Linked DNA regions of Homo sapiens. The protein of the gene in region 3 purifies or fractionates together with the protein of the main gene of each other region. This does not show direct contact. Each region holds a gene or a part of one and is shown on either strand. Other genes may lie near its edges.

The links.
Region 1: the proteins of B3GAT3 (region 3) and DNAAF5 purify together in Homo sapiens (affinity purification with mass spectrometry; 3 studies listed by BioGRID and IntAct, with this or other methods). This does not show direct contact.
Region 2: the proteins of B3GAT3 (region 3) and HEATR3 purify together in Homo sapiens (affinity purification with mass spectrometry; 4 studies listed by BioGRID and IntAct, with this or other methods). This does not show direct contact.
Region 4: the proteins of B3GAT3 (region 3) and GOLIM4 purify together in Homo sapiens (affinity purification with mass spectrometry; 4 studies listed by BioGRID and IntAct, with this or other methods). This does not show direct contact.

What each region holds. Positions count from the first base shown.
Region 1 is NC_000007.14:778,691-785,714, forward strand, and holds part of DNAAF5 (dynein axonemal assembly factor 5), read left to right. Parts: intron 1-1,262; coding exon 1,263-1,454; intron 1,455-6,826; coding exon 6,827-6,963; 3' UTR 6,964-7,024. UniProt on the Homo sapiens protein: Cytoplasmic protein involved in the delivery of the dynein machinery to the motile cilium.
Region 2 is NC_000016.10:50,068,963-50,075,986, forward strand, and holds part of HEATR3 (HEAT repeat-containing protein 3), read left to right. Parts: intron 1-1,215; coding exon 1,216-1,328; intron 1,329-3,642; coding exon 3,643-3,752; intron 3,753-6,608; coding exon 6,609-6,749; intron 6,750-7,024. UniProt on the Homo sapiens protein: Plays a role in ribosome biogenesis and in nuclear import of the 60S ribosomal protein L5/large ribosomal subunit protein uL18 (RPL5). Required for proper erythrocyte maturation.
Region 3 is NC_000011.10:62,618,963-62,626,183, forward strand, and holds the start of B3GAT3 (galactosylgalactosylxylosylprotein 3-beta-glucuronosyltransferase 3), read right to left. Parts: upstream 3,025-7,221; 5' UTR 2,986-3,024; coding exon 2,904-2,985; intron 2,858-2,903; exon of another isoform or gene 2,154-2,857; coding exon of another isoform or gene 2,093-2,153; intron 1,710-2,092; coding exon 1,535-1,709; intron 1-1,534. Other genes in the region: GANAB (neutral alpha-glucosidase AB isoform 3 precursor), read right to left, coding at 6,853-6,962, 7,103-7,203. UniProt on the Homo sapiens protein: Glycosaminoglycans biosynthesis. Involved in forming the linkage tetrasaccharide present in heparan sulfate and chondroitin sulfate.
Region 4 is NC_000003.12:168,008,925-168,015,948, forward strand, and holds part of GOLIM4 (Golgi integral membrane protein 4), read right to left. Parts: intron 1,900-7,024; coding exon 1,819-1,899; intron 1,495-1,818; coding exon 1,345-1,494; 3' UTR 1-1,344. UniProt on the Homo sapiens protein: Plays a role in endosome to Golgi protein trafficking; mediates protein transport along the late endosome-bypass pathway from the early endosome to the Golgi.

The DNA.
Region 1 (7,024 bases), on a different chromosome or scaffold from region 3:
TTGAGCATCTGACTCCGTCCTTCCTCCTGAGACACGTGCAGCGAGGGCACCCACTGTGCAGCGAGGGCTCCCGCCGTGCAGTGAGCATACCCCCTGTGCAGTGAGGGCACCTGCCGTGCAGTGAGCATACCCCCCATGCAGCAAAAGCACCCCCCATGCAGCGAGGGCTCCCGCTGTGCAGTGAGCATACCCGCTGTGCAGTGAGGGCACCTGCCGTGCAGGGCTGCTTCAGGGTTTGGCACCATAATGCCTGGATGTGCTCCGTGGCTTCCTCCTTGGTGCCTGTGTTTGGTGGCTGGAAGGCCCAGCACCCTCAGGGCCCAGAACCCTCAGGGAAGTGCCTGGGCATCTGCCAGGAATTAACCCACTGGGTCCCACTTGTCTCAAAGCCTGGCTTGGTAGGATGGCCTGAACTTTGGATGTTTTTCATGCCTTTCGTTACATAGGATCCTCTTGCTGAGGGTGGATCATGCCCTCCACATTGCAAAAGCATCAGAGACCCAGCCCACCCTCGCGTCTGCAGCGGGAAGATGGGCCTGGTGCCAGGCGCGGGCAGCCGCCCCTCCCAGCGTCGGGAAGATGGGCCTCATGCCAGGCATGGGCAGCTGCCCCTCCCAGCGTCGGGAAGATGGGCCTCCGGGTGGTTTTGCGACTCAGTCATCTGCGAATTTCCGGATGCTGCACAGAAGGGGGTGCCAAAGTTTTTTTAAGATGATGTAAAAAAAGCATAAATTTGATAAAAATTATGTCCATTAACCTCATAAGTTTCTACCCATCGGGAAGGATCATCCTTCTGTTTTCAGCAGCAGAAAACTGACCACAGTAGGGGGTTGTCTGTCACTGAGTCCTCAGCTCTGGTGGGAGGGCAGGGTCAGAGCTGGGCAGGGTGGCCAGCTCGGGGATCTGAGCATCTGGGAGCAGGAGGTGGAGGGCCAGGTGAGCACACAGCTGCGAGGAGGTGGAGGACCAGGTGAGCACACAGCTACAGCTACAGGGAGGCTCTGCGCCTGCAGGACAGGTTATTACAGGGGCCGCAGCAGGGCCTGGGCCGCCTCCACTCTGTTGGCTGGGGTTCAGGGGTCCCAGGTCGCCAGGAGCACCTTGCATGTGGCTCGGGATGCACGGAGTCTCCCGTGAGGTGTGGGTTTCTTAGGACCCCAGGGCAGGTGTCCCATGGGAGTATGAACTAAATGCCTTTGTGGACGTTTAGACGTGAAATGTCTGCTCTAGACTCACACACCTGTCTCGCTCCCTCCTTCCAGAACTCTTAAAACGCCTAGATGACGTGTCCAACGATGTGAGGATGGCAGCCGCCTCCACCTTGGTCACCTGGCTGCAGTGTGTCAAGGGTGCCAACGCAAAATCCTACTATCAGAGCAGTGTCCAGTACCTGTACCGAGAGTTGCTGGTTCACCTTGACGATCCAGAGAGGGCCATCCAGGATGCAATTTTAGGTGAGACTCCGACGGCTTGGCCTTCGTTCCGATGCCTGCTTTCGGCGCCTGCCACGGGCATCTGTAGCTGAGCCGTGTGACCGGCCACAGGGCCCTGGGGCACAGGAGGGGCCTCAGCTCCGGCCTGGCACACTCTTGAGTTCTTGGCAAACCCTGAGAGCGGCTGTCTTTGTGGTGATAGCTGCTGACATTTCCTCTAACAGAAATCAAAACTGAGAGTATTCTAGAATACTTGTTAGTTGTTTAAAATAACAATAGTAAGCCCAGTATATATTGACACAGATGGCTTGTGTTTTTGAAAAATACTTTCCAAAACAAAATCATCTGCAAGAACGATTTTTGCAAATGTCTTAAATGTGTAGCTTGATGGAAGACACTGGACTTTCACATCTTCCATACAGTCAGTCATGATGTGTATGGCTCTGGCTGAAATACGTGGAAAATAATCTGGCCTCGCCTGTGGCTTCAAGTGTAGTTGGACAAAAGAAGAGTATTTTAGTAGCCTTTTCAGATAGGCGTGGGACTTCTTCAATACCACGCCAACAGCGACACAGGCCGTCCCTTGAAGGTCACTCACAGCACAGGGCCTGAGGCCACACACCACAGAGCCTTCCACGCTCAGTGCATTAAAATCCGCTGGTCCATCTCACACTTGGAATGTAACGATTTGCTTTTTTTTTTCTTTTTTTTTTTTTTGTTTTGTTTTGTTGTTGGTGAATATAATGACGTTGTTCTTTTTTTTAATAAAATTTGTATTTTTAATTTTTGTGGGTACACATAGGTGTATATAAGGCATGTGTGATACTGTGATACAGGCATGCAGTGTGTGTAAATCACATTGGGGAAATGGGGTCCCCGTCACTTCAAACACTTACACTTTCTTTGTGTTACAAATAATTCAGTGATACTTTTCGTTATGTTTAAATGTGTGATAAATTATTGTTGACCATAGTCACCCTGTTGTGCTATCAAATACTAAATCTTACTCATTCTGTTTTTGTACTCATTAACCATCCCCACCTCTTCCCCCGGCCCCATTCCTCTTCCGAGCCTCTGGGAGCCATCCTTCTGCTCTATCTCCATGAGTTGAATTATTTTTATTTTTAGTTCCCACAAATGAGAATGTGCGGAATTTGCCCTTCTGTGCCTGACTTATTTCACTTAACATAGCGACCTCCACTTCCCTCCATGTTGATCCAATGACTGGATCTCATTTCTTTTGTGGCCGGATAATATTCCACTGCGTGCGCTCCACGTTTTCCTTCTCCCTTCATCTGTCCGTGGACACCCCGGTTGCTTCCACACCTTGGCTGTCGGAACAGTGGGGCATTCGGCGTGCGCGTGCAGCTCTCCCCCATAGCTGAATTCCTCTCTTTTGGGTATTTGCCCAGAAGTGGGATTGCCGGGCTGTATGGGGCTCTATTTTTAGTTTTGGAGGGACCTCCAGACTGTTCTCCCAGCGGTGCTCATTTACATTCCCACCAGCAGCGTGAGGGTTCCCTTGTCTCCACATCCGCGCCGGGACTTGTTTCCGCAGCCATTTTAACTGGGGTCAGAGGATGTCTCACTTGTTTCTATGTGCATTTCTCTGAGGAGCGGTGGTGGTGGGCACCTTTTCAGACGCCTGTTTGTCATTTCCATGCTGTCTTTTGAGAGCTGTCTGTTCAGGTCTTTTACCCATTTTTAATTGGATTATTAGATTGTCTGCTATTGAGCCTGAGCTCCTCATATATTCCAGTGATTAATCCTTGTCAGGCGGCGGTTCTAAGATACAGTCTCCCATCCCGTACCCGCGGGCTGTCCCTGCGGCTGTACTCTGCTCATTCTTCCCTTTGCTGTGTGGAAGCTTTGGGCCTGGATGTGCTGACTTTGCCTTTTGCCTCCTTTGGAAAATACTTAGACCTTCCCCGCGCAGCTGCGTCCGGTTTCCCGGCGTGGCTACATCCGGTTATGCGATGTCGGATCTTCCTGGTGTGGCCGCCTCCCGTCGCGCAGCGTCAGAAACTCGGATCTTCGCGGCGTGGCCGCCTCCCGACACGCGGCGTCAGAAACTCGGATCTTCCTGGCGTGGCCGCCTCCCGTCGCGCGGCGTCAGAAACTCGGATCTTCGCGGCGTGGCCACCTCCCGACACGCGGCATCAGAAACTCGGATCTTCCTGGCGTGGCCGCCTCCCGTCACGCGGCGTCAGAAACTCGGCTCTTCGCGGCGTGGCCGCCTCCCGTCACGCGGCGTCAGAAACTCGCATCTTCCCGGCGTGGCCGCCTCCCCTCACGCGGCGTCAGAAACTCGCATCTTCCTGGTGTGGCCGCCTCCCGTCACGCGGCGTCAGAAACTCGGATCTTCCCGGCGTGGCCGCGTCCCGTCACGCGGCGTCAGAAACTCGCATCTTCCTGGTGTGGCCGCCTCCCGTCACGCGGCGTCAGAAACTCGGATCTTCCCGGCGTGGCCGCGTCCCGTTACGCAGCGTCAGAAACTCGATATTCCTGGCGTGGCCGCCTCCCGTCACGCAGCGTCAGAAACTCGATCTTCCTGGCGTGGCCGCCTCCCGTCACGCAGCGTCAGAAACTCGATCTTCCTGGCGTGGCCGCCTCCCGTCACGCAGCGTCAGAAACTCGATCTTCCTGGCGTGGCCGCCTCCCGTCACGCAGCGTCAGAAACTCGGTCTTCCTGCCATGGCCACCTCCCATCCGGCGGCATCAGAAACTCGGACCTTCCTGGCGTGGCCGCGTCCCCTCACACAACGTCAGAAACTCGATCTTCCTGGCGTGGCCACCTCCCCTCCGGCGGCATCAGAAACTCGGATCGTCCTGGGGTGGCTGCTCTTGTTACGCAACGTCAGAAACTCTCCTGCGTGGGCACCAGGCTCAGAAGAGTCCGGCTTGTGGTGGCAGGGCCAAGCTTTGGCTCATTGTGATTTTTTGTGTGAGAGCTTGACTTGTATCCTCGGCCACAAACCCTGTCGGTTGTTCTGGGAGTGAGGGACTTGGGCCGTTCACTTTCACGCCGTGCTCTGCCAGATCCCGCGTCCGCACAGCCAGGGTGGGTGCACTGCTCGTCCGTCCGCCATTCTTCCTGGGAAAAGCAGCTCTGCTGCACGACCCTGGTCCTCCGTGTGAAGCGGTGCACCTGGTGCCCACTCGCGGGTGTAAGCCGTGTGCGTGAGGGTGAGTGTGGCAGGTGAAGCCGTGTGCTCGAGGGTGAGTGTGGCAGGGGGCGTGGGCCTCAGCTGCTCCCGCATCTGCGCAGGTGTGAGCACAGTGACGGGCAGGCCGGGCATGCTCTGCGTGCGACCACATGCCTGGCTTTGACTCACAGACCCTCTGAAGGGTCCTGGGGACCCCGAGGGCCTTGGAGCCCATGTCGGGAGCCCCTGCCTTGAGTCGTGGAATCAGGTTGTCAGCCAGTGAGGGAGCCCCAGAGCCCATTGATCCACGGCGGGGCCCGTGGTCTCTCCAGGTCACGGAAAGAAGCTGCGAATTGGAGACCAATTGGAAATTGTTTAAAAGGAGGACAGCAGCTCACGTGCAGGCCTCGCTGGGACAGCCCATCCTGCCAGATCCACGCAACGCCCCCAGCTCCCCACACTCCCTGGCAAATCCCAGCCCTGCCTGCGCCCTCCCAGCTCTCCTGTCCTGCACTACACACCATCAACCCGAGTTCTGAGCTTCTCCTACTCTCAGCCTCAGCCTCACTCGTCCTCAGGACCTTGCTCTAGGCCGAGGAGACCAGTGCCCCTGTGCACCAGCTCAGCCTGCAGCCCCGGCCCTCTCGCCTCCCCAGGACTGCACAGGGCATCTCCCTTCCCCACTGCACGGTACAGGCCATTCTTTCTCCTGTCTTTAAAAAAACAAAACACAGATGCCCTGTACGCCGCCCCCACCTCCCCCACCTCCCCCACCGCACATCCGCCTGGCAGCAGGCTCCCTGGAAGCAGCCCGCCTTACCCCTCCTCGAGGCCCTGGGCCCATGGCAGGCATCTGCAGCCGTCCACCTGCCTGCACCTCTGAGCAGCGCCAGGCACAGCTGGCGGCCACGCACCCTCCTCTGGCTGCGGGACGCCCGTGCTCAGTCTCTTGGTCTTTCCCTCGCCCATGTGGGCCCCTCACTGCTCCTCTGCTGTGTCTGCACCGCTCCCTCAGAGCTCTTCTCCTGGCCTCAGCTCCACACACAAGTGCAGCTGCCTGGTGCCGAACCCTGGGCCGCTACCCCCCTCCCTGACTGCCTGCCGGGTTCCGCCACCCTCAGTGGCTCAGTGGCCATCTGTCCTCAAGACTGAAGGCGGAGACCTTGAGGTCCTCCTGGACCCCCTCTTAACTCCCAGCAGAATCTGATAGACTCCCCAGCCACTGCAGCAACCTCCCCATCCTCTTCCTGCCTCAGCTAGACACGCCCAACCCTTTCTGGCCCCCACCCCTGCAGCTCCCACTGCCCCCATCACACACACCACCACGAGCCCCTGACACGTTTGCCTTCCTGATTTTCATCATCGGCCACTGCTTCCCGATGAACCCTCCGTAAGCATGGGTTCATTTCCGGCTGTGTCGGTGATGCCTGGCCCGTGGGAGGTTTGCAGTCACTGCGGCAGGTGAATTGGCATCCGCAAATTGGATAAGAAAGTCGCCTGTTTTTCTGAGCCTATTTGCTCCTGTGAAACCTGTTTCTAAGCCCAAAAATGCCACCTGAAGACTCTGCAGGACATCATTTCATGGTCTGCCCACAACTGCCAGGAGGCGATTTTCAGTTCTTTGAATGCACGTTGTGACTGCCGTGCACCCACCCAGCAGCATCAGGTTCCTCATATTCACATAGTGACCATGCAGCATCAGGTCACTTGTCCACGTTGTGACTCAGGTCATTCGTATCCACATTCTGACTGCCGTCCACCCGTCCAGAGTGTCAGCTTACTTATATCCACGTTATGACTACTGTGCACCCATCCGCTGCATCAGGTCGCTCGTGTCCACACTGGGACTGCCGTGCACGTGGCCAGCAGCATCAGGTCACTTGTATCCACATTATGATCGCTGGACACCCATCCAGCAGGATCAGGTCATTCGTATCCACATTGTGACTACTGGGTCCCCATCCAGCAGCGTCAGGTCATTCGTCCCCAGATTGTGAGTCGGGTCACTCGTATCCACATTGTGACTACTGTGTCCCCATCCAGCAGCGTCAGGTCATTCGTCCCCACATTGTGAGTCGGATCACTCGTATCCGCATTGTGACTACTGTATGTCCACCCAGCAGCGTCAGGTTATTTGCAGATGCTTTTACAGATGCTTGAACTTCACTACAAAGCCAATTTGCACGAGAGGTAAGATTGGTTTCATGTTTGTTTCTGGCATGTTCAAGGTGTTTTTCTGTTTTACAGAGGTCCTCAAAGAGGGCAGCGGGCTGTTCCCAGATCTCCTGGTGAGGGAGACGGAGGCCGTCATCCACAAGCACCGCTCGGCCACCTACTGCGAGCAGCTCCTGCAGCATGTGCAGGCCGTGCCAGCCACACAGTGACCACGCTGGTTTCAGCCACGGCACACCCTTGTCCCCACCTGAGCCAGAGTTTGTGGCCTTT
Region 2 (7,024 bases), on a different chromosome or scaffold from region 3:
AACATCTTATGGAAATTTCATTCCTTTTCCTGGAAACACCAATCTGCTCTCATTATTGATACTAATCTCTATTATTTTGTAGCTTTATTTTTATGATAGTTGGAAAAGACTTTCCTAAAATTGTACAGACTCACTCCTTTAGATGTTAAACTTCTTACAATAAAAATAATTAGTATTTAGTCATTGCTTATTTATGTGCCAGGTATTATTTTCATGTTTTGGATATTATATAATTTAATCCTCACAGTATTCTATGAGGCAGGTATTATTCCCATTTTACAGATGACAAAGCCGAGGCACAGACATTAGGAACTTGTGAAGATTACAGTAAGTTCTCATGTTTGATCTCATTCCAGTCTTATTGCATGACATAGTCAAGAGGTTAAGGAGCTCTGTCTCTGGAGTGCCTCTGGTCCTCTATTCTGTACTGATGGGTAATTTTCACTTAAGGCTACATAAAGGATATCCAGTTTTGATGAGAGGCATCAGTCATTTTAGAGCAGTGATTCTCAACTGGGTATGATCTTGCTTCACAGGGCATAACTGGCAATGTCTGGAGACATTGGTTGTTACAGAGCTTGTGGGGTTTGCCACTGGCATCCAGTGGGTAGAGGCCAGGGATGCTGCTAAACATCCCCAAATGCACACGACAGCCCTTCCTTCCCCAACAAAGAATTTTCTGGTGGAGAATTTCAGTAGTACCTGGATTGAGAAGCCCTGCTTTAGAGGGTCTCCTGGGCTGTACTAGAGGGGCTTAAGAGCACCAGCTTTGGAGTCAAATGCTAGGGCCTGAATCCCAGCTTCACCACATGCTAATCTAACACCTTCAGCAGCCTCCCTGTACCTCACTTTCCCATTTGCAGCTGGAGATTGGGGATAATAATAGTTCACCTACCTCATAGGTTTATTGTGAGGATTAAATGACTTGATACATGTAAAATGCTTAGAATAGTACTTTAGAAGGCGCTATGTAATAAACAGAAGGTGCTAGGTAGAAGCTCTTATTTCATCTTTTGTTGCCTTCCTACTGTCTTTTATTACATTTATTAGGTAAAATACTTTGTATTGATTTTGTACTACTGTTTGTAAGGATTCGACTGGCTTGTTAACCACGGTAATTTCTGATGTCTAGCCTTTGTGTTTCATCACCATCATTACCCTATTTGTTTAATTCTTCTTAGGAACCAGGGTGCTAATCATGATATTTGGTTACAGTGTAGTGCTGGACTGGATTCAAATGAGATGTCTCTGCAGGAGAAAAAAGATCAGAACAGAAATTCTATTGAGAACATAGCCAATGAGACTGTGAACGTGCTGTGGAATATATGGTAAGATGCCTACCAAACACAGTCTCCTGCTATAGCAGTACCCAGGCTGCTATTCTCTGTTATACTGTGTAGGAATCTCTGTTCCCCTTGGTAGGCCTGTTAATCTGGGATGTTAAGACATGGTAGGGGCCGGACATGGTGGCTCATGCCTGTAATCCCAGCACTTTGGGAGGCCGAGGCGGGTGGATCACTTGAGGTCGGGAGTTTGAGACCAGCCTGGCCAACACTGTGAAACCCCGTCTCTACCAAAAATATTAAAAAATTAGCCGAGTGTGGTGGTACATGCCCATAATCCCAGCTACTCGGGAGGCTGAGGCAGGAGAATCGCTTGAACCCTGGAGGCAGAGCTTGCAGTGAGCCAAGATCGTGCCACTGCACTCCAGCCTGGGGGACAGGGCGAAATTCCTGTCTCAAAAAAAAAAAAGACTTGGTAAGAGGCAGGATCAAGTGACCTAAGATCAACCCTCCTTCCCAGTCCGTTTTCTTACTGCATCACTACATCTTTTGTTTTACGGCTTTCCTCTCCAGTCATTGCATCTGACAAAAGATAGGAGGAATCATGACCATTAGCACCTGTGGCTCCTCCTTTCCCCCGACTTCTTGTACACCCTGAGCAGAATTTGTCTTTAAGCTGGTCAGTCCCACATGCAGGTGCAGCTTTGGTTTGGCCTCTAGACTGAGATGGGGACCACAGACCTTGGCTGGTGCTTTTCTTTCTCTTTCCTGGCACTTACTGTCTGATTGGGAAGTAGATGCCTAAGAAGAGCTCCCTTGGCCCCAGGAGGAAGAAGGCCACTCTCCATTCTGTGATTGTAGCAGTGGTGAGGGTGGAGTGGACTTGCCGCTAGGAATGGAAATGGCTAGAAACACAACCTGGATTTACTTTTTTCTGCCCCATTTTATGTCCCACATTTCTAGCAAGACTCTGTCACAGTTTCTTATCTTCAGTCAGCAGCAATTACAGTGGCTGACCTAAAAGCACAGATGTTTCTTAGAATACAAGATTAAGTTGGATCCTGAAATGCCTACGTGGCAATCTGACCTTGCCTGTGATTTCATTTTAATGAATGCATTCCACCAGAAATATTAGAGAGATCAGATCTGAGGAAATGGCATTTGAGCAAAAACTGATGGGTGCTGTTTTTCTGTGCACCAGATAACTTTAAGTCATAGAAATTGTTGCATTTGGAAGTTTTTAAAAAATTTCCTTGAAAAGAATCTGAATATATCTCCAAGGTGATTTCTCTTTTCTGAATACCTATGAGCCCTGTCTGTATCACTGAGTTACTATAACTTTTAACATTTTTGTTTCATCATTTATATTTCAAATTATCTTTACACATATATGCCTTGTCTTCCTGACTAGACTGTGGGCTCCTTCATGCTGCCATAACTAGATAGGTAGGTAGGTAGGTAGATAGAAGATATGAAATATTTTTCATTACATAACAGATTTAGTTTAATAATTTAGTCAGCTCTGTTAGCGTGTCATGTGTGTATGTTATATGTATGGAGGAAACATGTACAACATGGATATTTCCTCTGGAAACATGGATACAATTATTACAATTAGCCTTGTTAACTCGTATTTAATGTGTTTGCTTATTCATAACACTGAAAGCTGAGTCTTTTATTAAAAGGTAGTATAATTTAAAAAATACTTATTGTAATTTCTCTATTGTAGACTGCAAATTCTGCTTGATGAAATTATAATTGCACTCTAAAAGGCTTGAATAAAATATAATTTTATTTTCCTTTAAATGTGTGTTTTTGTTAATGTTCTAAAATATAGTAGGTTAAAAAATAAAAAATAAATTTGTGTTTTTGTGTGATAAATATAGAGGCCTTTTATCCTCCTTTAACTTGTTATCATTGTGGTATGGAGGAAAGAAAAAACAGTAGCCTGGACCCAGGGAACCTAGGTACTGGGCCTGGCTCTACCACTAACAAAATGTGTGCTCTTTGATGGGCCACTTTACCACTTGGGGCCTGGGTCTTCACATTTATAAAATGGGGAGTTGAATTAAACGATTTACAAGATCTCTTCCAGCTCTAACCTTCTATAAGGAAACTGGCATCATGGCAAAGAGATTGATGAAAAGGTCCCATTGTGATAGAAATAAAATATAGATAGCCAGTTCTCATGTACAGTGAATGTGAATGGGTGTTAGTTCCTTCATCGATAAAAATGGTGGGTGTTTGATTCCAACTCCTTGGTTTATAAAGCCTCGTTTGTTTTTTTATGGATTGCTATGGTTGATTTCCTACTGTTAAAATGTGAATAGTAAAACTTTTTTTTCCCCCTTCAATTTAGTGAATGCAGTAGTAGAGCAGTGTCTATATTCAACAAAGAAGGGTGTTTGGAGATTGTGTTAAAGTATTTAAGTAGGTTTCCTACCAATGTTGACCTGGCTATTTCAGTAGGTAAGTGAAGAAAAGGTGATGACTTATTAAGAATGTGTAGCCTTATTCAAAAATTTTTATGCAGCTTTGGCGTGTTTATTCCACTGGAGTGATTTTTTGTTTCGTTGTATGTGAATGTGTAGCTCAGCACCTGTTTTTTCTGGGTCTTAAATCTGTGATTAATATTAATTCTTTACCTACTCATTCAGTTTTTCTGCTTTTGACTCTGAAAGGGAGAAAGGTAATTATGTGAGGATATGTGGTTTCTAGCCTGTTTCCATTCTTAGCAGCCTTTATTAATTCTTGAAGTTTTCATCTCCATTTACTAAGAAACAGTAACGCACAACTACCAGGCCTTTAAGCCAGTTAATTGGAATCTAAACTTATTTAAATGTATTGTGCTACTATCTCATACGTCCAGCAGAAAACTGACGGCCTGAGTTTTGTTGAGAGAAAAAGAGGAAAAGAAATGATTGAAATTCCACTTAGGCCTTCATGCCTTCCATGAGACAGGGAAGGCAAAGTCCAGCAACTTCAGTGGCTTTGGCTGCCTCGCCTTCTCTTTATTGGGCTGGGGAACCACTGGGGACCCTCAGCTCAGTGGCAGGAGGCAGAAGTCAGAGCATAGGCAACTCAGCAGAATTCTGGGTGGGAGTGGAGAAACAATTGAGGGAGAGCATTTCTTTTCTACCGATCATTACTGCGGGCATCCAGCTGTCCCTTTGTGGAACTGCATTTCTCCTGGGGAGGAAGAAGTGTATTCCCCTGACTGCTGTTTTTCTTGACTCTAATGGATATTTTTAAGAGAACAGAATTGAGGGAAAATAGTAGAATAAATACTACTGAGAAAATTTTAAAAATCATTTCTCTAAATGGAATCTTGGTGGGGCTGGAGAGTTGTGAGTAAATGGGGATTTTAAAAACGATTCAGCCATTTTTAGGAAATTGATAGGTGACTTAATCTCAGAGGACAGTTTTTGTTACAATAAGAGAACTTCAGGAAAGTTAGTTCATATCTTTTACAAGAAAAATCACTTCTATTTTTGTGCCTTTAGTCTTATAGATTTATTTCTGTTTTTAGTTTTTCTTCCCCTTAATGAGCGTTTTTGAAATGGATTAGAATAGTCATTTTGCATTGTATAATAGTGTTTTCCTTCTCCATGTAGCTAGATTAATGATTTTTTAAAATACATTATTACTTTTGCTTCTAAAGTCAAGCAATGCTTACATATAGTAAAATGAACTTATAAGATTCCATCCCATGTATTCATATAACTTTTTTTGAACCTGTATGGTAGCAGTCATGGCTGTTGGCTAAAGTAAATTTAATTAGTTTCTTAATGACAAAGATATTACATTTGGATATATGTACAGAAATGCATATATGTGGATTTCCATATAAATGTATCATCAACCACAGCAGTAGCATGCATTTTGAGTAATTTTGATGGGCATGATTTAATATTTTACACATCTCTTAATTTGCTCATACTTTTATATAAACTACTTTTTTTCTTAAAGAGCTATTGCTCTGCCAGAAATAACCCTAACTTTGAAGGTCATGATAAATTTAAAGGAAGCCAGACGTCCCAAAACCTAAGGCTGTTTGCTACTGGTCCTTGATAAGTACATAAATTGAGGGTAAAATTTTTTTTTTTTTTTTGAGATGGAGTCTCAGCTCTGTCACCCAGGCTGGAGTGCAGTGGCGCAATCTCGACTTACTACAACCTCCGCCTCCCGGGTTCAAGCTATCCTCTTGCCTCAGCCTCCCAAGTAGCTGGGATTACAGGCGTGCATCACCATGCCTAGCTAATTTTTGTGTTTTCAGTAGAGATGGGGTTTTGCCATGCTGGCCAGGCTGGTCTGCAACTCCTGACCTCAAGTGATCCTCCTGCCTCAGCCTCCCAAAGTGCTGGGATTACGGGCATGAGCCACCGCACCCGGCCTGAGGATAAACTTTTATAAACATTTATAGTAACGACATTGCCGCATTTAAGAGTCTTTTTAGGCTGGGCGTGGTAGCTCACACCTGTAATCCCAGCACTTTGGGAGGCTGAGGCGGGCGGATCACAAGGTCAGGAGATCGAGACCATCCTGGCTGACAAGGTGAAGCCCCATCTCTACTAAAAATACAACAAATTAGCCAAGCATGGTGGCGGGTGCCTGTAGTCCCAGCTACTCGGGAGCCTGAGGCAGGAGAATGGTGTGAACCCAGGAGGCGGAGCTTGCAGTGAGCCAAGATTGTGCCACTGCACTCTAGCCTGGGCGACAGAGCGAGACTCCATCTCAAAAAAAAAATAAAAGAGTCTTTTTAATTGTATTTTGTAAAAAGTGTAGATCTGGCTGGGCATGGTGGCTCATGCCTGTAATCCCAGCACTTTGAAGGGCCGAAACGGACAGATCACTTGAGACCAGGAGTTCCAGACCAGCCTGGCTTTCATGGTGAAACCCTGTCTCTACTAAAAATATAGAAATTAGCCAGGCATCATGGCGCATACCTTTAATTCCAGTTACCTGAGAGACTGAGGCACAGGAATCGTTTGAACCTGGGAGGCAGAGGTTGTAGTGAGCTGAGATGCGCCACTGCATTCCAGCCTGGGTGACAGAGCAAGACTGTCTCAAAAAAAAAAAAAAAAAGTATAGATCTGTACAGGATTAGAAATTTAAAAAGAAAAGAAACATGATCTTTTCCAGCACTGATAGTTTGGGAAGCCTCATTTGCGCATATCACCCTGAGATAAAGCATATATATTTTGCAAAACCTACATGTGTCTAATGAAGTGGTAATGATACAATGTTTTATTGATGAGTTATACTGGTGTAAATTATCCAAAGCAGAATTCATTTGTTTCTAAATACTTATTTTTTGCCTCGTAGCATATTGTTTGCAGACAGTGACTGAGGATAACCCAGAGCTGCTGAAGTCTTTCAGTGCTACAGCATTGAACATGCTGGAATCAGCACTGCTTTCTCCTGTCAGTTCCATGGAATCTCTTCTATTGAAGACATTGGTAGCAGGTAAAATTTAGCCTTACGGCATAGTATATTGTTTCAGTAGCTTTTGGTATGGATGTGGTGGGGGCAAAATTTAGTCATTCATTTCAACACATTAGGTCTTCTGTGCTTTTATCTGTTCTGAAAATTTTAATATCTGAGAAGAGACCCTTACTTCAAGCAGTTGTCTATAGTTGTAAATCCTTGTAGAATAGATTTGTTTCGAATTTAACAAACTACTGTTAACCTGATAAAGAGATGCTGTTGTCAGGATCCCCACTTATTTATGAACCAGTGAT
Region 3 (7,221 bases):
ACAGAGTGAGACTCCATCTCGGGAAAAAAAAAAAAAAAATTAGCCTGGTGTGGTGGTGCACGCCTGTAATCCCAGCTACTCGGGAGGCTGAGGCAGGAGAATCGCTTGAACCCGGGAGGTGGAGGTTGCAGTGAGCCAAGATCACACCACTGCACTCCAGCCTGGGCAACAGAGCAAGACTCCATCTCGGTGTTGCGGGGAGGCGGGGGGAAGAAAAAAAAAAAAGGAACAAACCAGGAATGTGGAACGTGGGGCTTGGCCTCTTCTGTACTTCTTTATCCTTCAGATCTACCTGCCTGTCCCAGGGCTGGTTGTGTGTGCATGTCGCAGGTGGGGTCTAGAGCTTCCTATGCGTGAATGGGACAGCCATCTGATTCCCAGAAGATGTATTAACACCCTTATGGCTACAGATCCAAAACCACATTCCCCAATTGGTTTTATTAGTAAAACCAATTACATTTGATTTAAAACAAAAGCAAATGTAAATCACTAAATACAGTGCCTGCTAGAGAGTAAACACACTGTAAGTAACAGCTGGTATAACTATTTCTGGACCCTAGTATGACTATCAGGCCAAGCACTTTCAACTTTTTTTTTTTTGAAATGGGCTCTCTCTGTCGCCCAGGCTGCATGATCTCCACTCACTGCAACCTCCGCCGCCCAGGATCAAGCAATCTTCCCACCTCAGCCTCCAGAGTAGCTGAGATTACAGGCATGCACCATCACGCCTAGCTAACTTTTTTTTTTTTTTTTTTTTTTTTTCAGAGACAAGAGTTTCACCATGTTGCCCAGGCTGGTCTCAAACTCCTGAGCTCAGGCGATCCGCCAGCCTCGGGCTCCCAAAGTGCTGGGATTACAGGCGTGAGCCACTGCGCCCAGACAAGCCCTTTCAACTTTAATCAGGGGGTTTTAACTTTCTTGCCAAACGGTCCCTAAGGAGAGAGAGTTAATTCACTGCCAAGCTCAAAATTTCTTTGAAATGTTATTGTTCTATCTTATAATTTGGTAGAAATTTTGTATTTTCCTTCTAGAAAAAGAACTATTTTTTTTCTTTTTTCTTTTGTTTTGTTTTGTTTTTGAGATGGAGTTTCACTCTTGTTGCCCAGGCTGGAGTGCAATAGCGCACTCTCAGCTCACTGCAACCTCCGCCTCTCAGGTTCAAGGGATTCTCCTGCCTCAGCCTCCCCAGTAGCTGGGATTATAGGCATGCGCCACCACGCCTGGCTAATTTTGTATTTTTAGTAGAGACGGGGTTTTGCCATGTTGGCCAGGCTGGTCTCGAACTCCTGACCTCAGGTGATCCACCCGCCTCGGCCTCCCAAAGTGCTGGGATTACAGGCGTGAGCCACCACACCCAGCCTGAAAAAGAACTATTTTCCCACAAATATTTGAGTATAAATGTGGTTCATTTATCCTGTCTTTGGCATGCTCTAGTTTGAGGAACAACTCCTAGCCCAGTGCCTCCCCAAACTCCTCATCATCAACTCCAACTTCTTGGACAACGCAGACCTCTTGAGTGCACCAGAGCCCATACCTGGCATAGGTGGGGGTAACAACATAGATAGTAGGCAGGGCCTCGGGTTCAGGGGGCTGGGCAGGGGCAGGGGGTGGCCGTCGGAGTTCCGCTTGCAGCTGGGAAATCCTCAGATCCTTCTGCCGTAGCTGCTCGGCTGCTGCCCGCAGGGGAGGAAGGCAGTCACATGGCTGGCCTGGTCCCAGGAAGCATTAATGGGGAAAGAAGGTGGGGACAGAGAACCGCAGAATGTTCAGCATCCCAAAGGGCCGTAATCGTCTCATTAATTCCTAACCAATGCAGGTATCACCTTATGACTTCCCTAGTAGCCTTTTCTATACCTCTCGTGTGGGAAACTCACTGCCTCAAGCAGCAGACCCTCTCCAACTTTAATAAATTCCATTGTTACAATTTTATGTTGGATATTGAGCTGATTCCATCTTTTCTACCTGCTGGTCCTAATTTTGCCTTCTGGGCTTCTAACAAGCTCATGTCCTTAAACAGGACAGTCTTTTCAGAGTCCAAGGTGCCAACTAACCATTACACTATGGAACCCCTTTTGGACAGTCTTTCAAATACCTGAGGATAACGCAGTGGCACTGTCCCTAAATCTTTGCATAAGGGGCAGGGTTCGATCCATTCCCTTGGCTAGGTGACCAAAGACTCATTGTTAAATTCATTGATTCCATCGTAGGATAAATATTTATTGAATACTCTTCCTAGGAGGCACTGCCTTAGGTGCTGGGGATACAGCAGGGAACAAAACAGACACAGTCCCTGCCCTCATCGAGCTTTCTGTTTAGTGGAGGAAGCAGACACTAAGCAAAGAAACAAATTAATAACATTATTACAAACTGTGATGGGGCCATGAAGAAAATAATCAGGATAGAGAATAAAAGGGAATGGAATTAAGAATGGTAACTTTAGCTATGGTGGTCAGGGAAGGCCTCTCTGAGGAGGTGACATTTGAGCTAAGACCTGAAGGATGAGAAAGAGGCAGCCCGGGAAACGCTGGAAGCAAAGCACCCCAAGCAGAGGGAACAAGTTAAGTGCTTGAGAGAGTAATGAGCGTGGGGTTTTCGAGAAACTGTCAGCAAGCCAGTCTGGCTGCAGCAGAGCGAGGGAGAGGGGTGGAAATGGGGTTGGGAGAGGCGGACGGCAGCAGGATCATGCGGGGCCTTGCAGGCTCTGGGAAGGAGTCTGGATTTCATCCGAGGTGCGGCGGGTAGCCGCGGTGCGTTCTATAGAGGGCAGTGCGCCTGAGGCCGCAGAGCTGTCCGGAGGGCCGAGCGGATGAATGGTGTTTGCCGGGGGTTCATCCCCAGGGCGGGATGCACGGCGGCGGGCGCCCTCGGGCCAGCCCGCCGCACCCCCGCCCCGCCCCGCTCACCGAGCTGTACCAGCGCGTAGAGGAGGCCGGCGATCGACACCAGGAAGTAGGCGAGAAACACGTTCTTCAGCTTCAGCTTCATGGCCGCGCCGCCGCCCGCGCCCGAGCAGGCGGGGTCTGCAGGGGACGAGGGGTTCCCGCCCCAAACCCCGGCTCCTGTCCGCAGGCCCCGCCCCTGCAGCGGCTCCGCCCTGCGTCCCGCCTTCCTCGCACTCCCCTACCAGCTCCCAGCTGGGGCTGGCAGCGCCGCCAGGGCACGCTTCCGGTCATCTGTGCACCCCCCCGCCTTGTAGACTTGATTTCCGGTCCCACCGCCAGGTTCCGGGAACCACCGGGTGGTGACGTCACATCCGGCGTGCCAAACTCGCGTGGCCGGCAGTCAAAACCCCGGGTAGGTGCAGAATCTCGAGTAGGTGCACGTGGTACCTACCTCGAGACCCGCCCCCTCATCACGGAATTGCCTGAGAAAGCCAGTCCTGGCGCCCAGATCTTCACCTTATTCATCCATCCAGTCAGTCACGCCACCCAATAGCTGTTGCTCAATACTTATTACACGAATGAAATCTAAGGCCCACCACATGATCCTCTGGGTGTCTCTCCTGGAATCCTCACTATAATACTTTGAGATAGATAAGAAACCAAAGTTGACAAAAATTATGTCATTGCCACAGGGCAGTTTTGTGTCCTTTCTGGACACCCGATTCCAGCATCTCTAGTGTGTCCTCTGGCCCACATTTCTTCAACAGATGACAACAGGGGTGCCAAGGAAGTGTTTTAACTACCAGGAAATTGATTGGAAATAGTTCCTGAGCTGGGGAATTCCATGAATGCATCCCCTTCCTCCTCACAAGCACAAGCCATCCTTCTCATTTTTCCTTTAAAAAAAAAAAAAAGGGCCCGGCCCAGTGGCTCATGCCTGTAATCCTGGCACTTTAGAAGCCCAGGAGTTTCAGATCAGCCTGGGCAACAAGGCAAAACCCCGTCTCTACAAAAAAAACACAAAAATTAGCTGGGTGTGATGGCGCGGGCCTACAGTCCCAGCTACTTGGGAGGCTGACATGGGAGGCTGAGGCTGTGGTGAGCCGTGATCATGCCACTGCACTCCAGCTTGGGTGACTGGGTGAGACCGTCTCAAAAAAAAAATAACCCCCCAAAAAAAGTTTCTGGTAAAATAATCTCTGACTTGTGGTCAGTCTACAAAATGAGGGGAAGGGGGAACAGTATACTTCCTGTCACTAAAACAATGGGAAACTTTAAAAAGTGCTGTTAGCAGCTGGGCGCGGTGGCTCACGCCTGTAATCCCAGCACTTTGGGAGGCCGAGACAGGCGGATCACGAGGTCAGGAGATCGAGACCATCCTGGCTAACACGGTGAAACCCCGTCTCTACTAAAAAACACAAAAAAATTAGCAGGGTGTAGTGGCGGGCGCCTGCAGTCCCAGCTACTCAGGAGGCTGAGGCAGGAGAATGGCGTGAACCCGGGAAGCAGAGCTTGCCAAGAGCCGAGATCGCACCACTGCACTCCAGCCTGGGCGACTGAGGGAGACTCCGTCTCAAAAACAAAAACAAAAACAAAAGTGCTGTTAGCTACAAGCAGAAGCCTCTAGGTTGGGCACAGTGATCGATGCCTGTAATCCCAGAACTTTAGAAGCCTGGGAGGTCAAGGCTGCAATGAGCCAGGATCATACCACAGCACTCCCCGCACTCCAGCCTGAGCAATAGAGCGAAACTATGTCTCCTCAACCCCCGACATCCTCCAAAAGTTTAGTTTGAGAAACAGCTATCTGACCTTATGGCTATTTCTATCCAAGAGGGACTCCATTGGCTCTGATCACCACTTACTAACTAGGCCTACTAAAATGTGATGATCTTGCTGGGCTCTTCTACGAAAATATCTAGCAACCCAAGGAAGGCTTGCACTTGCTCATTTTGCTGAAATCAAGGATGCTCATGCTGGCCGGGAACAGTGGCTCATCCCTGTAATCCCAGCACTTTGGAAGGCCGAGGCAGGTGGATCACTTGAGGCCAGGAGTTCGAGACAACATGGTGAAACCCCATCTCTACTAAAGATACAAAAATCAGCCAGACGTGGTAGCAGGTGCCTGTAGTCCTAGCTACTTGGGGGCTGAGGCAAGAGAATCGCTTGAACCTGGGAGGCAGAGGTTGTAGTGAGCCGAGATCACACCATTGCACTCCAGCCTGGGCAACAGTGAGACTCCATCTCAAAAAAAAAAAAAAAAAACCCAAAAAGGATGCTTATGCTGAAGCCAAATGAAAATGTAAGGCCCATGGCCAGGCATGGTGCCTCACGCCTGTAATCCCAGCACTTTGGGAGGCCAAGGCGGGCAGATCACCTGAGGTCAGGAGTTCAAGATCAGCATGGCTAACATGGCGAAACCCCATCTCTACTAAAAATACAAAAATGAAGCTGGCCATGGTCGCAGGTGCCCGTAATCCCAGCTATTAAGGAGGCTGAGGTGGGAGAACTGCCTGAACCCAGGAGGCAGAGGTTGCAACGAGCCAGGATCACACACTGTACTCCAGCCTGGCGACACTCTGTCTCAAAAAAAAAAAAAAAAAAAAAAAGACCCAGGGCGCAGTGGCTCACTCCTTTAATTCCAGCACTTTGGGAGGCCGAGGCAGGCGGATCACCTGAGGTCAGGAGTTCCAGACCAGCCTGGCCAACATGGTGAAACCCCATCTCTAATAAAAATACAAAAATTAGCTGGGCATGGTGGCGCATGCCTGTAGTCCCAGCGACTCGGGAGGTTGAGGCACGAGAACTGCTTGAACCTGGGAGGCAGAGGTTGCAATGAGCCCAGATCATGCCATTGCATTCCAGCCTGGGCAACAGAGTGAGACTCAGTCTCAAAAAAGAAAAAAAAAGGAAAGCAAATGTAAGGTCTCTAGGCTTCTAGGGTCTGTGGCTCAGGCTAGAACTAGAATCCAGACTACCACCAGTTATTTATGGTTTATCCCTTTATTGTTTCTCCTTTGATCAAAACGTGTCACAGCTGGGAACCAAGAGGAAGTAAAAAAAATACCCACAAATATTCCCCGACTCCCCATTAGTCCTCCCCCAACCCCCCACCCAGGGCTTCCAGCCAACCCCGAGCACACATGATCATCTCCCCCCACCCTCAGGCTTCTCCTAGCAATAAATACAGGTGACCATGATTCACTGAAACCACAACTGATTTCTCCATCTTAAGTGCCCCTCAAAGGGGACAAGAAGGGGGCAAAAGAAGTTTAATGCGCATCCCCTAAGAGGTGTGGAAACGTCTTTCTGCCGAGGGACAGAGGAGGTAGAACTGCCCCTCTAAGAATTGCAGCAGCTCTACAAGGAATCGGGGAGAGGAAAAGGGTAGAATGAGAGGGAAAAGGATGTTCTTTAGCAACCTCACTCCTTTGATCCATTCATCCTGTCCGGGGTAAGGGGTGGTCCCAGTGTATCGGTGGGGCATAAAAAGGGGAGTAAAGCCTGGAGGAAGAAATGAAAGGTGGGAGAGCAATCTGGTGGGAGGGAAGGGGAAAAGGAGCCCTAACTCATTGCCCTCATCTTCTTCCAAGAAGTGGCATCAACATACAAGAGGCATGAATGGATAGACTCTGGGGGAGTTCAGGGCTCCTAAATAAGGGAAAGAGAAGGGGCGACAAGGGCCCTGTGGTTTCCTGGTGTTCGTAAGTGAATGTGCTCCAGTTAGAGCAACAGGATGTTGGGGGAATGAAGGGAAAGAGTTGGTATCAATGGAGTGGGAGAGGTGAGGAGATCACAAGAGGAATTTGGAGCCCAGGGTCAGCCCTCTCATCCTGCCCAAATGTTGGCAGAATCTGGGTCTTAGACTAGCATAAGTGAAGTCTGGGGAGGGCCGAACTCCAAGGCAGAAGAAAGAATATCTCTCAGCACTAATGCTCCCCTTCCCTCCCCCTAACCCAGAACATCCCTTGGGTTATCGCAGGTGAATACTCCAATCAGATGCCACATTGATGCCAGGCTTGCGCAGGACCAACACAGAGGTCTCAGGGTCATGCTGGAAGGACAGGCGGCTTTCTGGAGATCCTGGAGGAGGAATAAAAGAGTGCCATAGTCATACCAATGGGCTATAGCATAACAACAACGTTCCTACAGGCAAGGGCATCCCTAAACCTGCCCCGGCTTCCCCTCCTTCCCCCATCCTAGGGGCCAGATTGGTCACTCACCTTTTGTCTGGAGTACCACAGCTGCTGGCTTTCCAGCCCCTATTATCACCACCCGCTCAATCCAGATTGGTGTCTCAAAGTGTCCTTCAGGGTCTGCTGAGCTGGAGATGGTAAAAGCA
Region 4 (7,024 bases), on a different chromosome or scaffold from region 3:
CAATCACTCAACTGGAACAATCAAAACCATCTATGAGTGTGGTTATTAAAAAATAAAATTACGTTCATACAATGGTAGAAAATGAAATGTTTTTATTAATTTGATTATTAATACAAAACCACACATATATGAATTATATAACCTAGTGTTATATATTTAAAAATCTTTATGCTTGCAACTGAAATGTCTCTACTCCAAGGGAAGTTTCTGATTTTTAATTTTCTTATTTTAAGGAATCTATTATATTCACAATGATTAAAATGCCTTACACATAGGCAAAAAGCAGACCCAATCCCAGCAAACAGAAAAACCATAAGTCTATCATATCACCATATGTTTCACCATATAGTTTTGAAAAATAATCCTATTTGCAGTTTGGTATGTCTTCATATTTATACTTATTATCAAAGTGATTGCATATTGAGGCACAGAGCTTAAAGAGGAAATATATATTACTTATAGGGAACCAGACACTGAAACAAGAATATCAATCAATGGCTTCAAACAAAAAAAAAAAAAAAAAATTGAGAATGGGTGCTCGCATAGAAACACCACACGCAAACACTCATTAGTTTTTAACCAAGTCACTAGTCCTTCCAAAAGGTGAATATGTTGATGTGTCCATACCTTGTTTGAACACTGCAATACCTGATTAAGACCAGGATACTGCCACATGAGTTTTAATACTCTCTCATTTTTAAATTCAATTCCTCTTAAACAGAACAGCTATGATTTTAAAGCAATGACATTTTTCTAATTGATCTGAAAAGTCTGAAAAACAATGTCTTTACAACAAAAATGGATTTCCAATTGTATGTCACTTTGTACATAGATCTCACTCCAGAGATACATAGACTGGTGAAAATTCTATCAGAGCTATACATAAAGACATCAGAAGGGCAGCAATTAGTAAACAGGCCATTCTCTTTAAAGTCTGCATGGCATTTTGCAGTACTCTCTGTTCTTAAATCCTGTATTTTATCAAAGGCAAACAAAGAACACCTGGGAACTGGAAGCCAGAAAGGTAACACGCTGAAACATATACAAAATCAATGAGCTTTCCAACATCACATAATCTATTAAAAAAATTGGGACGTGGGGGCTCAGGTTTACTTTATTGTTTTTCTTCTTTTTCATGTTTAGCTTGAATATAAAAGAAGCTCTAGACCTACGTTATCAAAATATATTCATATAAATGTATGCGCATTTCTAATACAAAAGTTTTAAAAAAGTCTAAGTTCTTAATTTTTGTAATTAAATATCCTAGAGTTCAGTAGGCAGATTTATGTTTGAGCAGCTTGAAAAGAATCCGTTGGCTGAGCGTTGTCTAGAAATTGGGTGCCGCTACATTTCAGCTCTTCGATGTGATTTCTCAGCAACTGCAGCCCCGTCTTCTTCCTCCTCTTCTTCCTCCTCGTAGTGTTCCTCTCGGCCTTTGGGGCGGTTGTCATCTCGAACTTCTTGCTCTTCTCCATCATTATTTTTATCATCAGTCTTAAAATTAAAAGAAAAAAGAAAAACTAAGAGATAGTATAGAGTTAGTGATAAATAATTCTCTCTAAAAACAGGATGAAAAATTACTCATTTTTGGAGGAAAAAAAAGGAAGAAAAATGATATGTAAGCAACAGTGCTGCTGTCTCTCCTACTTTTCATGTTGTCACAACTTTTCCTAATTTCAGGTGGGCCTGTTAAATTCAGTGGTAACTCAGAGGTACCATTACCCACTGGTACGTATCCCAAATACATATATCTCTCCTATACACATGCACACCCACAAACACTCAAGTGCTCAATAGAAATATGTATCCCGGTCATACATTTTCATCATTTTCACCATAGGTCTCTTCAGCATTATGCTCCAGTTCCCTTTTTTTCTCTTCAGTCAAATCTTCCTGAACCTAAAACAAACCACAGATATCATTTAAACACTTTTGTCTTTCAAGCACTTGCGATAATATATTTTGACACTGTTATCATTTAAAGACTTGCAATAATATATTTTGATTTCCAAAAAGTTCACTCAAAATAGCAGAAGCAAAATTAAAGTAAATATACAATTGAAAAAATATGTCAAGGATTTATCTACTAGGTGTGAAGAAATGTATAAGGGAGGAGCCAAGATGGCCGAATAGGAACAGCTCCGGTCTACAGCTCCCAGTGTGAGCGACGCAGAAGACAGTGATTTCTGCATTTCCATCTGAGGTACCAGGTTCCTCTCACTAGGGAGTGCCAGACAGTGGGTGCAGGTCAGTGGGTGCGCGCACCATGCGCGAGCCAAAGCAGGGCGAGGCATTGTCTCACTTGGGAAGCTCAAAGGGTCGGGGAGTTCCCTTTCCGAGTCAAAGAAAGGGGTGACGGACGGCACCTGGAAAATCGCGTCACTCCCACCCAAATACTGCGCTTTTCCGACGGGATTAAAAAACGGCGCACCACGAGATTATATCCCGCACCTGGCTTGGAGGGTCCTACGCCCACAGAATCTCGCTGATTGCCAGCACAGCAGTCTGAGATCAAACTGCAAGGCGGCAGCAAGGCTGGGGGAGGGGCGCCCGCCATTGCCCAGGCTTGATTAGGTAAACAAAGCAGTGGGGAAGCTCCAACTGGGCGGAGCCCACCACAGCTCAAGGAGGCCTGCCTGCCTCTGTAGGCTCCACCTCTGGGGGCAGGGCACAGACAAACAAAAAGACAGCAGTAACCTCTGCAGACTTAAATGTCCCTGTCTGACAGCTTGGAAGAGAGCAGTGGTTCTCCCAGCACGCAGCTGGAGATCTGAGAACGGGCAGACTGCCTCCTCAAGTGGGTCCCTGACCCCTTACCCCTGAGCAGCCTAACTGGGAGGCACCCCCCAGCAGGAGCACACTGACACCTCACAAGGCAGGGTATTCCAACAGACCTGCAGCTGAGGGTCCTGTCTGTTAGAAGGAAAACTAACAAACAGAAAGGACATCCACACCAAAAACCCATCTGTACATCACCATCATCAAAGACCAAAAGCAGATAAAACCACAAAGATGGGGAAAAAACAGAACAGAAAAATTGGAAACTAAAAAGCAAAGCGCCTCTCCTCCTCCAAAGGAACACAGTTCCTCACCAGCAACAGAACAAAGCTGGATGGAGAATGACATTGACGAGCTGAGAGAAGGCTTCAGACGATCAAATTACTCTGAGCTACGGGAGGACATTCAAACCAAAGGCAAAGAAGTTGAAAACTTTGAAAAAAATTTAGAAGAATGTATAACTAGAATAACCAATACAGAGAAGTGCTTAAAGGAGCTGATGGAGCTGAAAACCAAGGCTCGAGAACTACATGAAGAATGCAGAAGCCTCAGGAGCCGATGCAATCAACTGTAAGAAAGGGTATCAGCGATGGAAGATGAAATGAATGAAATGAAGCGAGAAGAGAAGTTTAGAGAAAAAAGAATAAAAAGAAATGAGCAAAGCCTCCAACAAATATGGGACTATGTGAAAAGACCAAATCTACGTCTGAATGGTGTACCTGAAAGTGATGGGGAGAATGGAACCAAGTTGGAAAACACTCTGCAGGATATTATCCAGGAGAACTTCCCCAATCTAGCAAGGCAGGCCAACGTTCAGATTCAGGAAATACAGAGAACGCCACAAAGATACTCCTCGAGAAGACCAACTCCAAGACACATAATTGTCAGATTCACCAAAGTTGAAATGAAGGAAAAAATGTTAAGGGCAGCCAGAGAGAAAGGTCGGGTTACCCTCAAAGGGAAGCCCATCAGACTAACAGCGGATCTCTCGGCAGAAACTCTACAAGCCAGAAGAGAGTGGGGGCCAATATTCAACATTCTTAAAGACAAAAATTTTCAACCCAGAATTTCATATCCAGCCAAACTAAGCTTCATAAGCGAAGGAGAAATAAAATCCTTTACAGACAAGCAAATGCTGAGAGATTTTGTCACCACCAGGCCTGCCCTACAAGAGCTCCTAAAGGAAGCGCTAAACATGGAAAGGAACAACCGGAACCAGCCACTGCAAAATCATGCCAAATTGTAAAGACCATCAAGACTAGGAAGAAACTGCATCAACTAACGAGCAAAATAACCAGCTAACATCATAATGACAGGATGAAATTCACACATAACAATATTAACTTTAAATGTAAATGGACTAAATGCTCCAATTAAAAGACACAGACTGGCAAATTGGATGAAGAGTCAAGACCCATCAGTGTGCTGTATTCAGGAAACCCATCTCACGTGCAGAGACACACATAGGCTCAAAATAAAAGGATGGAGGAAGATCTACCAAGCAAATGGAAAACAAAAAAAGGCAGGGGTTGCAATCCGAGTCTCTGATAAAACAGACTTTAAACCAACAAAGATCAAAAGAGACAAAGAAGGCCATTACATAATGGTCAAGGGATCAATTCAACAAGAAGAGCTAACTATCCTAAATATATATGCACCCAATACAGGAGCACCAAGATTCATAAAGCAAATCCTGAGTGACCTACAAAGAGACTTAGACTCCCACGCATTAATAATGGGAGACTTTAACACCCCACTGTCAACATTAGACAGATCAACGAGACAGAAAGTCAACAAGGATACCCAGGAATTGAACTCAGCTCTGCACCAAGCGAACCTAATAGACATCTACAGAACTCTCCACCCCAAATCAACAGAATATACATTTTTTTCAGCACCACACCACACCTATTCCAAAATTGACCACATACTGGGAAGTAAAGCTCTCCTCAGCAAATGTAAAAGAACAGAAATTATAACAAACTTCTCTCAGACCACAGTGCAATCAAACTAGAACTCAGGATTAAGAATCTCACTCAAAACCGCTCAACTACATGGAAACTGAACAACCTGCTCCTGAATGACTACTGGGTACATAACGAAATGAAGGCAGAAATAAAGATGTTCTTTCAAACCAACGAGAACAAAGACACAACATACCAGAATCTCTGGGACGCATTCAAAGCAGTGTGTAGAGGGAAATTTATAGCACTGAATGCCCACAAGAGAAAGCAGGAAAGATCCAAAATTGACACCCTAACATCACAATTAAAAGAACTAGAAAAGCAAGAGCAAACACATTCAAAAGCTAGCAGAAGGCAAGAAATAACTAAAATCAGAGCAGAACTGAAGGAAAAAGAGACACAAAAAACCCTTCAAAAAATTAATGAATCCAGGAGCTGGTTTTTTGAAAGGATCAACAAAATTGATAGACCGCTAGCAAGACTAATAAAGAAAAAAAGAGAGAAGAATCTAATAGATGCAATAAAAAATGATAAAGGGGATATCACCACCGATCCCACAGAAATACAAACTACCATCAGAGAATACTACAAACACCTCTACACAAATATACTAGAAAATCTAGAAGAAATGGATAAATTCCTCGACACATACACTCTCCCAAGACTAAACCAGGAAGAAGTTGAATCTCTGAATAGACCAATAACAGGAGCTGAAATTGTGGCAATAATCAATAGCTTACCAACCAAAAAGAGTCCAGGACCAGATGGATTCACAGCCGAATTCTACCAGAGGTACAAGGAGGAACTGGTACCATTCCTTCTGAAACTATTCCAATCAATAGAAAAAGAGGGAATCCTCCCTAACTCATTTTATGAGGCCAGCATCATTCTGATACAAAGCCAGGCAGAGACACAACAAAAAAAAAGAATTTTAGACCAATATCCTTGATGAACATTGATGCAAAAATCCTCAATAAAATACTGGCAAAACGAATACAGCAGCACATCAAAAAGCTTATCCACCATGATCAAGTGGGCTTCATCCCTGGGATGCAAGGCTGGTTCAATATACGCAAATCAATAAATGTAATCCAGCATATAAACAGAGCCAAAGACAAAAACCACATGATTATCTCAATAGATGCAGAAAAAGCCTTTGACAAAATTCAACAACCCTTCATACTAAAAACTCTCAATAAATTAGGTATTGATGGGACGTATTTCAAAATAATAAGAGCTATCTATGACAAACCCACAGCCAATATCATACTGAATGGGCAAAAACTGGAAGCATTCCCTCTGAAAACTGGCACAAGACAGGGATGCCCTCTCTCACCACTCCTATTCAACATAGTGTTGGAAGTTCTGGCCAGGGCAATTAGGCAGGAGAAGGAAATAAAGGCTATTCAATTAGGAAAAGAGGAAGTCAAATTGTCCCTGTTTGCAGACGACATGATTGTATATCTAGAAAACCCCACTGTCTCAGCCCAAAATCTCCTTAAGCTGATAAGCAACTTCAGCAAAGTCTCAGGATACAAAATCAATGTACAAAAATCACAAGCATTCTTACACACCAGCAACAGACAAACAGAGAGCCAAATCATGAGTGAACTCCCATTCACAATTGCTTCAAAGAGAATAAAATACCCAGGAATCCAACTTACAAGGGATGTGAAGGACCTCTTCAAGGAGAACTACAAACCACTGCTCAAGAAAATAAAAGAGGATACAAACAAATGGAAGAACATTCCATGCTCATGGGTAGGAAGAATCAATATCATGAAAATGGCCATACTGCCCAAGGTAATTTATAGATTCAATGCCATCCCCATCAAGCTACCAATGCCTTTCTTCACAGAATTGGAAAAAACTACTTTAAAGTTCATATGGAACCAAAAAAGAGCCCGCATCGCCAAGTCAATCCTAAGCCAAAAGAACAAAGCCGGAGGCATCACACTACCTGACTTCAAACTATACTACAAGGCTACAGTAACCAAAACAGCATGGTACTGGTACCAAAAGAGAGATATAGATCAATGGAACAGAACAGAGCCCTCAGAAATAACGTCGCATATCTACAACTATCTGATCTTTGACAAACCTGAGAAAAACAAGCAATGGGGAAAGGATTCCCTATTTAATAAATGGTGCTGGGAAAACTGGCTAGCCATATGTAGAAAGCTGAAACTGGATCACTTCCTTACACCTTATACAAAAATCAAGTCAAGATGGATTAAAGACTTAAACGTTAGACCTAAAACCATAAAAACCCTGGAAGAAAA